Linked DNA regions of Homo sapiens: region 2 is linked to region 1. A link means that fine-mapping ties the variant in region 1 to the expression of a gene that starts in the linked region. Tissue or cell type: whole blood. Region 1 holds a variant in brackets; the other region holds the start of a gene. All regions are shown on one strand. Distances are between the middles of the regions.

Region 1 (8,108 bases):
TCATGATGAAGAGAGCATTTCAGAGTATCTTGAAAGAAGAGGGAAGGGAATCGAAATTAGTGAAACTACATGCCCAGAGACCAAGGAAATACCACTTATCACATAAGGATAATAAGGAAATACTGCTTACCACATAAGAAGTGATAAATAGTAGGACTAAGATATGGAGGAGGATGAAAACAGAAAGGGGTTAATCATAGAGATTAGGTTAATCTCGAGGATTATCCCCTACGGAGAAACTATACAAGGCAAGCGAATTGCAAAGAATCATACAGTTCCAGTGAATGCAAATCTGGGCATAAATGAAGATGATAACACCATTGAAGGTTAAGAGAAGGGGAATCAGTTTGAGAACTGAATGGTCAACTTCTGGTATAGTCAATAAATCAAGAAAATTGTCCATTATAACCTTTACACAAAAATGAAATGACCATCTTGACCTATTCTTTAAACATATTATTCTGAGAAATAACATTACAAAGTAAATTAAACTCCATTCTAGGCACACAGGAAGAAATGTTTATTATATGTAATAATGACTGCTGAAGAAAATCTGTAGCCTTTCTTAGAAATTGGCAAAGACTTTCTTCTTGACCAAACTCCAGCCAGGCTCCTCTGAGCTCTCTTCTGGACTAGGCCTCAAACTTGGCCAATAAATACTTGAACATAGTTTCTAGAACACTAACATAGTTTCTAACAGCTCAAGGCCACATCCCCAGGATGACCCCAGCCCCTCTTGAAATGTTTGCCTGGGAAAACTCCAGAAGAATTTACTGGTGGTTCTGCCTTCTGCTTTTTAAGCTCCCCACCCCCACCCTTTACAACCCCAAGTCACCTCCATAGAAATTGGAATGGAGTTTAGCTCTTCCTCCTGTCAGTAGTTACTGAATCAAACCTGTCTCCACTGCTGTGTCTGGCTGTGTTTATCCTGGACTAAATCACATTCAAAACAGCAATGAACCTAAAATGATCATGAACTTAATTATGAACCATCTAATTTATGATTGAAGCTTTTTATATATCAGAAATATTATAAAGGATCAAGAATTTTAAATCCATAAAAAGTCTGTTCTCCATAATATCTGGATGAAGTCAATAGGGAAATTACTAGATTACTCCTTAAGATCCCTCTGCCCCTCAGTCTCATCATAAGAAAAAGTTTACCTGTATTCACTTACCAAGCTTTGACAATTCCATCTTCTTTTCAGACCAGGTATAATACTGTAAAAGCCCTTTATAGGCCTGAATAAGGTTGATTAATATTTCCCGGGAAGACGTATTTTCACCATGTCTCCATGTCTCTGCCTCACTCAGATTTCTCTTAGCATCTTTAAGCATTCCATGATGCAGAAGGTATAATGCATGTTGTAAGGAGATCTGCAAAAATAATAAGGGTACACCGCCATTTAAGCCATTAGATAACCATTAGTCAAAAAGCTCAGTAAATATATAATACATGCTGGGCAAAGACCTTGGTAGGATACAAATAACTTGACATGGAAAATTTTGATGTTGGGTACAATCTGGCAAAGAAGTAAGACATAGGAAACAATTAACACTATGTAAATATGAGCTAAATTATGTAAACTTACAAACAAAAGACAGTGTGATATAGTGGGGAAAAAAGAGGTTTTGAAGATGAGTGTCTTGGTTCATACACCACTTAAAAACTAAATAAACCTGGGTAAATTATTCACTCTTTGTGAGTCTCATTTGTTTTACGGAACATTACTGCCCCTTCAGAAGGGTGTTTTCAAGATTAAATGAGATAATACTTGCAAATCACCTAATAGTTTGGCTCATAGCAGACATTCAACAAATATTACTATTTTATACATGTTATATAAGCTTAGAGAAAATATCTTAATAAGGGATGCTGAAGAATGGCTTCAGTTCAGATGGAGAGGAAAGTGTATCCCTGATACAGGAGAAGCAGGAAGAAAAATTATACAAAGAATGAGTATTACAAAAAGGGAAGACATTAAAGAGGAGAATAATGAGAACTACAATTAATCATATGGGTAGAGCCAAAGTACTGCAATAAGTTGTCAACTGGCCTCTCCATTCCTGCCTCCCTACAATCCATCTTTCAAGTGGCTACCAAAGAAATTTCATCTTGTTAGTCATTTGCATAAACTCCTTCAATGGCTCCCACTGACTACAGAATTAAAATCCAAGTTCCCTGGGTATGGCACACAGGGCCCAGCCTACTTCCCCCAACTTCTACCCAAGTGATTTTTAGAGTAACTAAATTATTGGATGTAGGGCTTTTAAACTCTTTATAACCCCCGCCATGCAGGGCTGCCCTTTCCCCTAATCTGCCTAGTGAATGGCCAATTGCTTTTGCAAACTTATCTCAAGTATCACTTTCATTCTTTTCCTGATTCCCCTACCCATTAAATCCCAACCCTCTCTAGTTCCAGAGAACTGGCCATTTTCTCCTTTATCTTCTCACCATTTGTTACATTTCTACTATGGTACCCATAACACTTCATTCCATTTACATGATCTTCCTCTACTATAAGAACCATGTCTAGCATATTGCCTGGTAAGCGGCAATAAGTGTTTTTAAAATTATTAACAACAAAAAAAATTGTATTATCTATCCTAATTATCACTCTCAGACTCTTATTGAGAAATGAGGTTCCCTTTCAGTTTCTTTACTTCAACTGAGTAGATTCTATGAGCCAAAAGGGACCTAACCAACAGTTTACTCTTCACACTCCCTCCCTAATTAAATGGCTATCCAGTTTAGACCTGAAAAAAGAGACGCAGAGCACACATCAGGGTAGGCCATTCCCATTTCCAATTGTTTAGTTAGAAAGCTTTTTCTTAAGTAGAACCGTAAACTGCCCCCATTTAATTTCCACTCACAGTATACCTGGTCTACCAGAGAACAAAATCGTAAGAGCATCTGGCACACAAATAGACACTCAAAACATTTTTTTAAAGCAAAGCATTTACAAACCTGTATTGAAAAAGTGCTCTTTGAGACAAAAACATAGAGAGGGAGATACAATATTTTGAAAATGTCTCAATCTTTTTGGATAAGACTTTTACAAAAGGATATATGAACTTGGAGGTGAAGATTCCACCTAAACATTAGAAGTATTAAAATATTTTCACGTATTTAAATTCCCAACTTGTTTAGCTCTTTCCTTTTCTAAACACCAACTCTAAGCTCAAGTGACTTCAGCAAACATTTTAGAATCTGGCCCATCATCATACCACTGCAATCTCTGAATAACTGGTTTTGGCAGCCAGAAGAAATATACAAAGAAAAGGAATTTTTAGTCAGAGAACACAGGAGGCGCCTGAAAATCAAGAAGTAAATGGTTCTCATAA[C/T]GCTCTTTTCTTTCAGTTTCTCTTATTTATCCAGAATGTCTTATCCTTGTCCCACATTTTTTAGGTTAACTACCTTATCACTGACACAAGCAATTAGAAAAAAAAAAGAATACTGCAAGTGTAAATTCACAAAGCCCATATTCTCACCTTTAAATAATTCATGACGCCAATATTTTTCATCCGGTTAGCAAAAGTATTGAAACTCTCCATGTTGCTTTTGGGATGATAAAATAGAATTTCACTTCCGAGCTTCCAAATAATCTGTCAAAGCAGAAATTACTGCCAAAATGTAAAATTTTTGCCTTAACCAATTTCTGTCTAAGATATTGTTTTCCTGATTACAACATTAATAACCTGTGATTCCTTTTCCAGAGACCACTACCGTCAACATTTTACTCTACTTTGCCATGTAAAATTAATACTACTTCCTTATGTGATAGAATAGTTTTAACCTTTCAAATTTCTATTAAAATATCAGATAGTATAATAGCATCATTATTAATTTAGTAGTTTAAAGAAAGTAGACAGTTAAGATACATATTTAATATAAAATGTTTAATTGGTATGGAAGGAAGAATATTAAAGTCAGAAAATTTGGGTTCTAATAATATTGGCTTCTTCATTGGTCTCAGCCTCTTCTTCATCATCTGCAAAATGAGGGCAACAAACTACACATTTCCTGAGAGCCCATCAAATTCTACAACTATTGACTACATTTATTCTATATTTAGAATGCCAATTTAAGAATTTTGATTAGCTATGGACAAATCTTAATAAAAAAATATTTTATCCTCAGATCACCAAAACTTTGGCGGCAGAACTTGGAGCTCTTTTTTCATGAGAGCAAATCTCTATTTCGCTAACCTCAATTTAAAGTAATCAATAATACCAACTTCAAAGTAAATTAAACTGAACTGTAAATCAATTATTTCTATGAACATACATATTGGTTATATGTGGATACACACACTATCACTGCTATAGTTATATATGATACACATATTATCATTTGATATAAGGATCCTCATCTTCCCAACTCAGAGATATCAAGATTTCATTTGTAGAATATCACACTGTAGTATTTGGGAGCTTAAAGAAAACCTGGGTCTTGGATCACCTACCACCAGGGATGGGTAAATGCAGGGGGGGAAGAAAAGCAGGAAAAAAAAAAAAAAGAAAACTTTGAGATTATGATAGCTATTCTCACCACCAGTGTACACAGTAATTACATGGGACACCAGTTAAAAATAGGTATTCTGGGCCAGGCGCGGTGGCTCACACCTGTAATCCCAGGATTTTGGGAGGCCGAGGCGGGTGGATCACGAGGTCAGGAGAGTGAGACCATCCTGGCTAACACGGTGAAACCCCGTCTCTACTAAAAATACAAAAAATTAGCCAGGCGTCGTGGCGGGAGGCGGAGCTTGCAGCGAGCCAAGATCGTGCCACTGCACTCCAGCCTGGGTGACAAAGTGAGTGAGACTCCATCTCAAAAAATAAAAAAATACAAATAAAAGATACTCTGACTCAATAGACAGGGGTGGAGTAAAGGAATTTATACTTTGAATGAAAGCCCTAGGTGATCCAAAGAGAGCCAAAGAAGTGCTCAAAAACCACTGATCCAATTCCTTCATTTTACAAAACAAAATCTGGACAACAAGAGGCTGTAACATGTTCAATGTTTTACAGGAGTATGTAACTTAAGTCCATAAATTAAATTTTCAATGAATGGTTAAACTTTTTTTTCAGCTTCTCTTTTTTATTTTTTTTGCTCTAGAAGATAACTAATTGATGCAATGGTGACTGTGTTAGTAAAACCTATGAGACACTCATGTCAAGTTATTTGTGGGTAAACTGTCTTTTACTGAAGAAATTTAGCAGTATATGCCAGGCACTGTTTTAACCCTGCCCTGTGAAATTTACATTCTATGTAGAGAGACAAACAATAACCAAGAAATATAATTAAATTGTCAACTGTTAGAGGAAAAGAATGCAGCAGGACAAGGAGATCAGGAGTGCCATTCAGAAAGTGCAGGTTGCAGTTGGAGTAAGGCAATTGCAATTTTAAATAGTCAAAGTAGGCCTCAATGAAAAGGGGCCTTGAAGGAGGGTAGCTGCAGTGATAGCTGAAGAAAGAGCTTTCCAAGAACTGGTTAAGGCAAAGGCAATCAGTCAGGAATATGCCTGGCCCATTCAAGTAAGAACAAGGAGACCAGTGAGGATGGAAAAGAAAAAACAAGCAGGATAATACAGGTTGAGTATCCCTTATCTGAAATCGTTGGGACCAGAAATGTTTCAGACTTGAAATTGTTTCCGCTTTTTAAATATTTGTATATACATAATGAGACTGGGGATAGGACCAAAGGCTAAACATGAAATTCACTTATGTTTCATATACACCTATACATATAGCCTGAAGGTAATTTTATATAATATTCTTAAAATTTTGTGCATGAAACAAAATTTGTATACATTGAACCATTAGAAAGCAAAGGTGTCACTATCTCATGTCAGTAATGAAAAAGCTTTGAAGCATTCTGGTTTTCACATTTTTGAATTCGGAATGCTCCACCTGTTTCAGGAGATGAAGTCAGAGAGGTCAAACAAGGAAAGGAAGTGAGCACATCACATAGGAATTTATAGGCAATTATGACTTTGGCTTTTACTGAATGAAATGGAAAGCTATTACAGTGTTTTCAGCAGAGGAGTGACATGATCTGATATGTTTTAAAAAGCTCACTCTGAATCATTAGTCATTAGAGAAATGCAAATCATAACCAGGATGATGCCACTTCACAACCACAAGGATGACTATTATCAGTAAGACAGGACAATAACAAAATATTGGCAAGGATTAGAGAAATTAGAAGCCTCAGATATTGCTGGTGAGAATATAAATGGTATGGCCACTTTGGAAAACAGTCTGGCAGTTCCTCAAGAGGCTAAACATAGTGTTACCATATGACCAGCAATTCCACTCCCAGGTGTAGACCCAGGAGAAATTAAAACAAACGTCCACACAAAAACCTGTACACAAATGTTCGCAGAAGCATTATTTCCAATAACCGAAAAGCAAAAACAACCTAAGTGTCTAACAACTGATAAATGGACAAATAAAACATGGTATTTCCATATGACAGATTATTTGGCAATAAAAGTAATGAAGTACTTATACATGCTACAACATGGATAAACCATGAAAACATTATGCCAAGTGAAAGAAATCATTTACAAAAGGCCACATATTGTACAAAACCACTTATATGAAATGTCCAGAATAGAAAATAGATTAGGCTGGCCATAGTGGCTCACGCTTGCAATACCAGCACTTTGGGGAGGCCGAGGTGGACAGATCACTTGAGGCCAGGAGTTCAAGACCTGCCTGGCCAACAGAGTGAAACCCAGTCTCCACTAAAAATACAAAAAACTAGATAGGTGTGGTGGTGCATGCCTGCAATCCCAGCCACCCAAGAGGCTGAGGTACAAGAATCACTTGAACACAGGAGCTGGAGGTTGCAGTGAGCAGAGATCATGCCACTGCACTCCAGCCTGGGCAACAGAGCAAGACTCCGTTTCAAAAGAAAACAAAAAAAGAAAAAGAAAGTAATAGATTAGTGGCTGCCAGTGTCCGGCAGCTGTGAGGAGGAATGGGGAAGGACTGCAAGTGGGTACAGGGTTTTGGTTTCATGGGAGAAAAAAAAGGTTCTAAATTTAGAGTGTGGTAATGGTTGGTTGCACAACTCTGTAAATGTATGAAAATACATTGAATTGTACAATTTAAGTGGGTGATGGCGTATAAAAAACGTCTTGATAAAACGAAAAAAAAAAGGATCACTCTAGTTGGAAAAAGAGAACAACTCTTTCAAGAAGTTTTGCTGAAAGAGAGTAAAACAATGAAGTATAGTCTATGGGGGAAGTTTGGGTCAAGAGATGATTTTAAGATAGAATAGGCTGGGCATGGTGGCTCACACCTGTAATCCCAGCACTTTGGGAGGCCGAGGCAGGCGGATCACGAGGTCAAGAGATTGAGACCGTCCTGGCCAACCTGGTGAAACCCCGTCTCTACCAAAATACAAAAAATTAGCCGGGCGTGGTGGTACATGCCTGTAGTCCCAGCTACTCAGGAGGCTGAGGCAGGGGAATCACTTGAACCCAGGAGGTAAGAGATTGCAGTGAGCCGAGATCGCGCTACTTCACTCCAGCCTGGCGACAGAGCAAGACTCCGTCTCAAAAAAAAAAAAAAAAGATAGAATAACAAAATTTTTACATGATGATGGGAAACATCCATAAAGAGGGGGGAAAAGGAAGAATTATTGGAATGAACATTTTAGTCCCCTTTAAAATAAGAGGTAAAAAGAAGTGTGCAAAAAAGGTCCCAATACAAACTCTCCACTCAAAAGTAGTTTTAGTAGCTTTTAGCAAAATCACTGAGATTCTGTAAAAGCTACTGTAGGTGAAGCTGTAGGCATAAACTTCTGGGAATCTATCATTTCTTCCAGCAAACTCAAATTTTATTTACCTCAGGTGCAGCCTGCCTTTTGTAGCTATCTGAATCTTCCAAGGTCTGAAAATAACTGTACATGTATTCTGCAGCTTGCTGCCATTGGTGCTTCAGCAGAGCTTCTTGGATAAAACTTAAACAAGCACTTGTTGTCTGAGCAAAATCCTTCCTCCTTTTCCCTCCAATGGCTATAAAAACGAAAAAGAAGAGAGTTTTTATCCAAGTGGCTCCAGTTCAACTATTCAAAAAACTTACTTCTGATAAG
Region 2 (8,089 bases), 38 kb after region 1:
TATCCACCAGGCTTGTCAATATCTTTTTAAGAAAATGATTTTTTCAAAAATGTAAATAAATCAAAACCCTATAAAATCTACACACTTAAGTAGCTAGTTCTTCAGTAACAGAGAGCTCTGACCTTTCATGTAAAAGCTTTTGTAAATATTAGTCAAAGTGAATATTATTCACTTTGTAAAGTAATAATATTCGATTAGATCATGTTGGAGTTTTGTTTTTTTCATCAATTAATTGTTATTAATTCTAATCTAAGGAGAAATAAGATAAAATCATGTTTTAAATCTGCTTTAATATTCTGGTAGTATATTGGGAAAAAATACATGCTATTTCATCCACTCCCTCTGCAACAAATACACCCTCATTCAACAGTAAATACATTTCAGGTTCTGTCCTTGGCGGTAAGGATGCTACTGAGGGGAAGACACCAAATGCCTTGTTTTCATGGTATATTCCCTTTTGGTACTATTCATTTTATGGAGGCTTTATTTAGGTTAATAGCATAATATATTTATAATGTGTGAAGATCTGTGGGTTTATTCAACAAATCATTTGTTGAGTACCTTATATATTCCAGACATTGTTCTAGGCACTGATATTACAGCAGTGAACAAAACAGACAAATCCGCTGCTTCCATGGAGCTTATATTGGAGGTTGGGTGGCAGTAAAGTAGATAAACATAAGGCAGGTGGTAAACGCTCTAAAGAAAAATAAAGCACAGTGATGAGCCAGCTAGTCATGAGAAGGAGTTCTGTTTTACGTAGGGGTATCAGGGAAGGCCTCACTTGTAAGATATGGCACTGTTACAGAGACACGATGAAGTGAGGAAACTAGTTAGCCAGGCAGACTATTTGGGGAATTATTCCAGGCTGACGGAAAATTGCAAGTGCAGATACACGAATGCAGGATTAGGCTTGGTGTATCTGAGTGGAACCAACAGAGCAAGGGAGGAGTGTTAGGAAATGAGGGTAAAAGGGCAGAGGAGTAAAATTAAATAAGACAGTGTACTCCATAAAAAAGTAATTGCATTTTACTTGGAAATGGGAAGCCATGGGAAGGTTATGAGCAGGGGAGAGGCATGACCACATTTATTTCATAAAACAATTGCTTTAGCTACTATTGAGACTATGACTTTGGAAGGGCAAGAGCAGAAGCAAGAACATGACAAGGCTATTGCAGTTATTCAGGTGAGAGATGGGTGGCCTGGCCTGCACTGCTGGCACTGGAGATGGGGAGAAGTGGTCAGATTCTGAATGTATTTCAAATGTTTATGCTGAGTGAAAGAGTCAGACAAAAAAAGAATGTATACGATATTATTCCATTTATATCAAATTCTAGAAAATGCAAACCAATCTGCAGTGACAGAAGGTTGTCTGAAGACAGCTGGGACAAGGGAGGGAGGGATTATAAAGGATCATGAGAACTCTTTCAGAGGTGATGTTGATGAATATGTTAATTAACTTCATTGTGGTAATGGTCTCATGGGTGTAGACATATGTCAAAAATTATCATTGTACACTTTAAACATGTGCAATTTATTGTAGGTTAATTATACTTCAACAAAGCTATTAAAAAAGACATGGGATTGTCTGATGGATTGGACTTGGGTGTGAGAAAAAAGAGGTCGAGGATGGTTTGTATGTTTTTGGCTTAAGCACCTAGAAGATAGGAATTAAATTGTCATTCCTATTCCTCAAATAGGGAAGACCGAAAGGAGCAGAGTTTGAGAGAAAAAGATAAAGAGTTTGGTTTTCAACATATTGTTAGAGATGCCTATTAGACACATCTAAGATATTAAAACAAATAAATACACAGTAGAAAAGAAATGAAGAATGAACAGAACTACTACTTGGATAGAAAGTGCTTGTCCGTGACCTTACCAAATGTATATTTCTCAAGACAGCATTGGAATTACATTGGCCCAGTAGGAACTCTCACGGCTCCTACAGACAAAAATTTGTGAGCATCTGTTTACCGTTTTTTCCTTATTCGATATAATGGATTGCACAGACAAGCCACATTCTTTCTTCTTGCTTTTAAGTAATACGATTTGTTTGGGAAACCAGCTGCTGGGTTTGTTGTTCAAGGTTGATGAGTAACCTTAGAGATTGCAATGAGAAGCTGCTGGTCACAGACAGATGCCAAGTTCTTCAACCAGGGCTGGAGAGCATTGTAGCCACTCTTCTGGAGAGCATTGTAGCCACTCTTCTCTGGGCTGACCTGCTCATGCAGTCCCCCGCTTTTTTAACTGCACATATAAATCATCCAGTTATAGTATGATTTAAATAAGATTTTGCTTCCCTGCTCAGAAAGAAAGTACAAAAATTGCTTGTTGCTTGATGGAGGCTTTACAGAGCTGTGATTAAAAAGGAGCATACTACCTGGGTTTGAATCTTAGCTCCATCACTCACTAGGTGTTTGAATGCCTTAAGGTAGTCATCTCTGAAATGGGGATCATAATAGGACCTACTACTCTAAGGTGCGATTGTTGTGAAGATTAATCTTAATTCTGGCATGAAATAAGTATAAAATGGAAGCTCATCACACTGTTATTAAATTAATTTACTTTTTTCCTATGGATATAGATCTAGGAATCTCAAGATCTCAGCCCAAGGACCATTACCCATTTCTATCAACGACCAAGCAGGCCACGGGCTCTGATTTATATCCTCAGCCCCCTATTCCACTCACCTCCCCCTTTCTTAATCAAAGAGCACCACGGGATGGTGCCCCCAAGGAAGCCCTGGGAGGCTGAAAAGGAGGGAGCCTGAAACCAGAGACTAACAGTGGCAAATCGCGGGTGGGATTTGGCAGTTCAGAAAAGGAGGTACCATGCCAAGAGTGGGGGTAGCGGGGTGAAGTAGCGGGGTGAAGTGGGGGGCTGGTTCGGGACAGGCCACAAACCAGAAACTGCGAGAAGGCGCCAGAAGGGACCTGTTGAGATGGCGCAGGGTTGGGGGACCCAAGCGCGCGGGGAGGGGTGAACTAAGAATGGAGTCACGCGGAGGTGCTGCGAGGGACTGGGGCAAAGGCAGGTGATTGGGCGAGGGAGTCCTGGTTGCCACGGCAGCGACCAGAGGAGAAGGCTTCGAGGAGAGGAGGAGGCTGCTGTCAGTCCTCCTCCTGGAGGTCTCCCGCATCCCTCCTAGAGCCTCTGCTGACGTGTCAGTCGGAAACTGCTCAGACCTTCGCGGGCGCCGCCCCTCTGCGCTTGTCTTCCCACATGCCCCCGGCGCTCCGCCTGGTCCCTGCCCGCGTCCCTGCCCCCGTCCCTGCCCCCGTCCCTGCCCCCGTCCCCGCCCCGTCCCCGCCCCCGCCCCCGCCCCCGTCCCCGCCCCCGTCCCCGCCCCGTCCCCGCCCCAGCCCCCGCCCCAGCCCCCCCGTCCCCGCCCCGTCCCCGCCCCCGTCCCGCCCCTCTGCGCCCGCCCCGGCCTCCTCCTCCGCGTCACCGGCTCCCCGAGGTGACCACAACATGGCTGCGGCGCCTGGGCTGCTCGTCTGGCTGCTCGTGCTCCGGCTGCCCTGGCGGGTGCCGGGCCAGCTGGACCCCAGCACTGGCCGGCGGTTCTCGGAGCACAAACTCTGCGCGGACGACGAATGCAGCAGTGAGTGCGCTGGAGGGGCGGCTGGCCTCGGGGCGGCTGGCCTTGGGGTCTCCGCCGGCCCCGGGGGTCTCCGCGGCGGCGCCGCCTGGGCTGTGCGGGGACGGGAGTTCCGCAGCCCCTGGCCGGCCCGGGGGTCGCAGGCGGGATGGGCTGAACGCGGGGGTGGGCGCGCTCCGGGTCCCTGTGTCTGCCTTCTCCCGCTCTGCCTGCGCCCGGCCCCTCGGGCCTGACCATGGGGGCTGCACCTCCCACTTGTTGCCAGCGTTTTATTTTTCCTCTGCTGAGGCGGGGGGTTGCTTGCGGTGGTCCCCGGCTTCCCCAATAGTGGCTCACAGCGTCCCCTTCCCACCCCCCCAATCCGCCTGGGCTCGGAGGGTAGATGTGGTTGCGCGCCGCGCGTCTGGGCTCCCCACGCCGCAACCAAAGCTTTCCTGCCCGCGCTGCGGGGACCTCGGTGGGTGCATCACCCCGGCAGATGCGCTAAGGGCTCGGTGGGCGTTTTCCCAGTGGCAGGTTGATGGTGGGGTTTGTTTGGAAAGGCTCCCTGGCGCTGCTCCTTTGCCCTTCTGCTTTATTGGGATTTGGGCTTGTACCGCCTTTTGAACAGGAATTGGGAGTTTAGGTTTGGGACGAGTCTGGAGTCCAAGCACTCATTGTATTCCGAGGTCTCTGCCCCGACTTTGATCAATCCTGTCGTTTCTGTGCTTGGAAGCCGCCTTGCAGACTGCTAGGCAGGACTGCAGGAAGACCAAAATCTTTCGCTCTGCAGAGACCGAGGATCTGCACCGGCCACCTGGGACCGGCAGCCTCCTCTTCTGTGCGCAGGAAGCGGAATTGCTCTCCAGTCTGGGATTGGAGGTGGGCGGTGGAGAGGGCACAGATCTTCAGGCTCAGATGAAGAAGGTTATTACAGGAATGACAGTAAATACTCCAAGGGTCTCATAAGCCAAGCTTGGTTTAGCCTTAGCCGCTTGCGTGTTGAAACCTCTTCCCTCTATGTTCGCCGGACCAGGATCATTTTAGGGCCTCCCAGACCGTCTCAACCTTGTAACTTACTGATAGCCACTGCAGAAACGGTTTTTCATACACTGTTAAGCAATGCCTATAGAAACGTATTCATTTTAAGAAGGCCAAGAACTCTATGGTTTAGCTATTTATATTCAAATTGATGTTATCAAAACCGAATTTCATAATATGAACTGTTTGTATCTCTACAACACTAATCAAGAAAAGAGATCTCTAATGAGTGTGAAGCCATTCCTAGAGATAACCCTGTGGTTGATGTAAATAAACACTACAAAAGCGGTACAACTGCCATGATTTTTCCCTTTAGTTTTCTTGGGTCAAAGCCACGCTGTTACCCATTTGCCGTTGGCAATGGCAAGATAGTTGGTATTCTTTGCTTGCAAGCATTGCCCTGCCTGGGTTCCTCAAAACAGGTTACCTGGAGAATCATCACATCACTGATGCTTCTTCAGTACTGAGGCATGATGTTAGAAGAGCTCACGGTTGTAACATAACTTGAGAAATGGTACGTGTTCAGAGGAAACCAAATACAATAGGCATCAACAGGAGCAAGGTCTAGATGGGTCTGTGTTGTGTTGTAGAAAGTGTTTAGTAATGTGAGTATGTACGGTGCCCTTGTGTGGTTTTCAAATAGCTGTTCCACAGGGTGCATTTTGTTGGCATCTCAAATATTATTATAAATCCTCTATGATCTATTGTAAGGGGGAGCAAAAGAAACATTGCCATTTTCAATTCTGATCTTATTCCCAACCTTAAATTGTCCATCATCTTAAACCTGGCCTCACACTCAATTATATCTGAGCTACAAAGCTGACATGTTGGAAAGTAATCAGAGTTTAGCTTCAAAAAACAAGTAGCCCCTTCCAAATCTATATGCGTGTATAGCCATTTAAAGGCACGTTTTTAATGTATTTTATTGCAAATTGGCTTTTGGAAAAAATCTTATTTCTATTCGTCCTTCTTTGTCTCTGCTATTTAGATGTATTTATTGTCCATTTCATCTTACATGGGAAACTGTGTATGTGGTCAACAAAAATAAAAGTACTGCTTCAGCCAGTTTCTAGATCAAGCGTGATTGAATTACTGACCTATTCTCATAGTTTTGCTTAGTCCCAGCCAAATGAGATGTCGACTTTTGATTTTGTTTATAGAAAAATATACATAAGGGTATTCTTTCCTTTGTTTTGAAACTTAATTTTGGATACAGTCAACATTATTTACTTTCAGAAAATATTGCCTTGTGATGTAATTGAATCTATAGTAGGGTGTGATAGATATCTTTTCCCATTAATTTATCCAGACACTGTACTAAGGGAACAACTTGGCTGCAAATGAAATTGACAGTGTTTACTGCTACATAGTACTGGTTACAGTCACTTGAAGATAGACCCTTTTAGTGGTTAGTTCAAGTTAATTGACCTCTTGGGGGTTCCTGGGTACTCTAGTTCCCTATTACCCGTTCATGTAGCCATGCTTAAGTTAATCATCATCTGGGCTTGAATTTACCCATTTGCAAAAGGAAGCTTTTTATGAATATGAAACAGAAAAGATTGAGGACTAGAAGGTTAGAGAGGGAATCGAGAGTTTCACTTGGGTGAGAAAAGCCATGTGTGGTAGTTGGCACATTGCTTTTTGTTTCTCAGTATTATCCATAGAGAAAAATAGAGAAGGTTTTCCTTTCCCTTGTCTGCTTGCAGAAGGTATGATTTATAGCAGTAAAGCTCAAAGGATTTGAGATACTTTGAGCATATGAAAGAAATTCCAGAGAGTACTGGAAAAACTTGGTTGTTGTTTATAGTGGGATTCTTATATTTCCTGATAAATCAATATGCACTGTGAACACTGAATCCTGATATCTGGCTATTTTTTTTCTCTCTCTTTATATACAGTGTTAATGTACCGCGGTGAGGCTCTTGAAGATTTCACAGGCCCGGATTGTCGTTTTGTGAATTTTAAAAAAGGTGATCCTGTATATGTTTACTATAAACTGGCAAGAGGATGGCCTGAAGTTTGGGCTGGAAGTGTAAGTAAAATATCGACATACTTTATTTGCTTAATTTTTATTGGCTTCTTTAGCACTGTAGAGTTAAATGACTGCATTTTCTTGGGACCTTTGATGGAGTTAACTTGTCCTCTCTGCCTGACTGTGAAAAAAGATGGCCCTGTGTCCCCAGCAGGCCTTGGGTCTGCACAGAGTAGGGGCTCAGCAGAGCCTTCTGAAATAGAACTGATTCTGGCAAGTTCCCCTCAGGGTCAACCTCTAGGATGCTGCATACGTATTAGAGGTTGAAATGGTAAGAGCTGAAAAATACTTCATTGCTTTAAAAAGGAAGTATTCATAGGAATTAGACTTACTCCTGTAAACTATATGTGAGAGAGTGTTTCAGGCATGTAAGCTTAAAGTTGATTTTATGTGTATTTCTTTGTTTATATTATTATTTATGAAAAAGTGGCAGTCTTGGGAACAGTTCCCTAATCATCTGTGCTATTATAAGTCTGTAAAAAAGCAAAATGTTGTTTCTCGTGTGCTTTCTTGTTTGTTTGTTTTTTTTTTTTTGAGGCGGAGTCTTGCTCTGTCGCCCAGGCTGGAGTGCCGTGGCGCGATCTCGGCTCACTGCAAGCTCCGCCTCCCGGGTTCACGCCATTCTCCTGCCTCAGCCTCCCGAGTAGCTGGGGCTGCAGGTGCCTGCCACCACACGGCTAATTTTTTGTATTTTTTTAGTAGAGACGGGGTTTCACTGTGTTAGCTAGGTCTCGATCTCCTGACCTTGTGATCCACCCACCTTGACCTCCCAAAGTGCTGGGATTACAGGCGTGAGCCACCGCAACCAGCCTCTTGTTTGTATTTTTGTTTGCAGCCTTGGGGTCATCCTTGTCCTGCTTTTCAGACACTTGTGTCTGGAGGTTACCCCAGGGGATTGATTCCCAGCTGATTTTATGGGTACCCTGCTATCAGACCTGGCAATCAATGACTGCATCATGCTTTGGTATTTTTAATGAGGAGATTCACTGGGAGTGACCTGATTGAGAGGCCTGTCTTATGAGTTATTGTCCTTTCCTTTTTAGAAAGCGTGATATGTGGACTGTGTCTTTACTTCAAGTAGTAAGGGTCCTCGATATCTTTAGGATTGTCCCAACTTAGAGAAATACCCATCCCGACTATGAAAGTTTTCACTGTCAGTAAAACACCAAACAAACAAAGAGAAAATAAGGCTTGAGAAATCCCCTTGGGGAAAATAGACTGATTTTGTTGGCATTCCAGGTTCCTAGGGAGTAATCTTGGGAAACAACAACTGGTCAGGTTCAGCTCTCCTATTTAGAGAGCATCCCAAGTGACTTGCTCCATACCAAAACAAATCTATTCTATTTCCTTCAAGTCTACCTAATGAGATTTGTTGATAATCTTTACTCTTGGAAATGTTTTTCCATGTACCTAGGCTGCGTTTTTTCATAGAAAAG

Evidence for each region. PIP is the estimated chance that this variant, and not a neighbour inherited with it, causes the effect.
Region 2: MIA3 starts here. The variant in region 1 is fine-mapped to the expression of MIA3 in whole blood (INTERVAL, PIP above 0.99).

What each region holds. Positions count from the first base shown.
Region 1 is chr1:222,576,267-222,584,374 of GRCh38, forward strand. It overlaps TAF1A (TATA-box binding protein associated factor, RNA polymerase I subunit A), which reads right to left. Exons shown (of 11, transcript NM_005681.4): 3 at 7,862-8,031; 4 at 3,493-3,606; 5 at 1,179-1,377. Among named protein-coding and RNA genes, the nearest start is that of TAF1A-AS1, 9.6 kb to the right of the region's middle. RefSeq lists an enhancer at 6,080-6,219. The variant C/T (reference allele first, on the strand shown) is at 3,346.
Region 2 is chr1:222,614,640-222,622,728 of GRCh38, forward strand. MIA3 (MIA SH3 domain ER export factor 3) reads left to right here and starts at 3,458. Exons shown (of 28, transcript NM_198551.4): 1 at 3,458-3,604; 2 at 6,520-6,653. The coding sequence starts at 3,472. RefSeq lists a cis regulatory region at 1,868-2,450, silencers at 3,256-3,325, 3,496-3,755 and enhancers at 3,276-4,158, 4,439-4,498.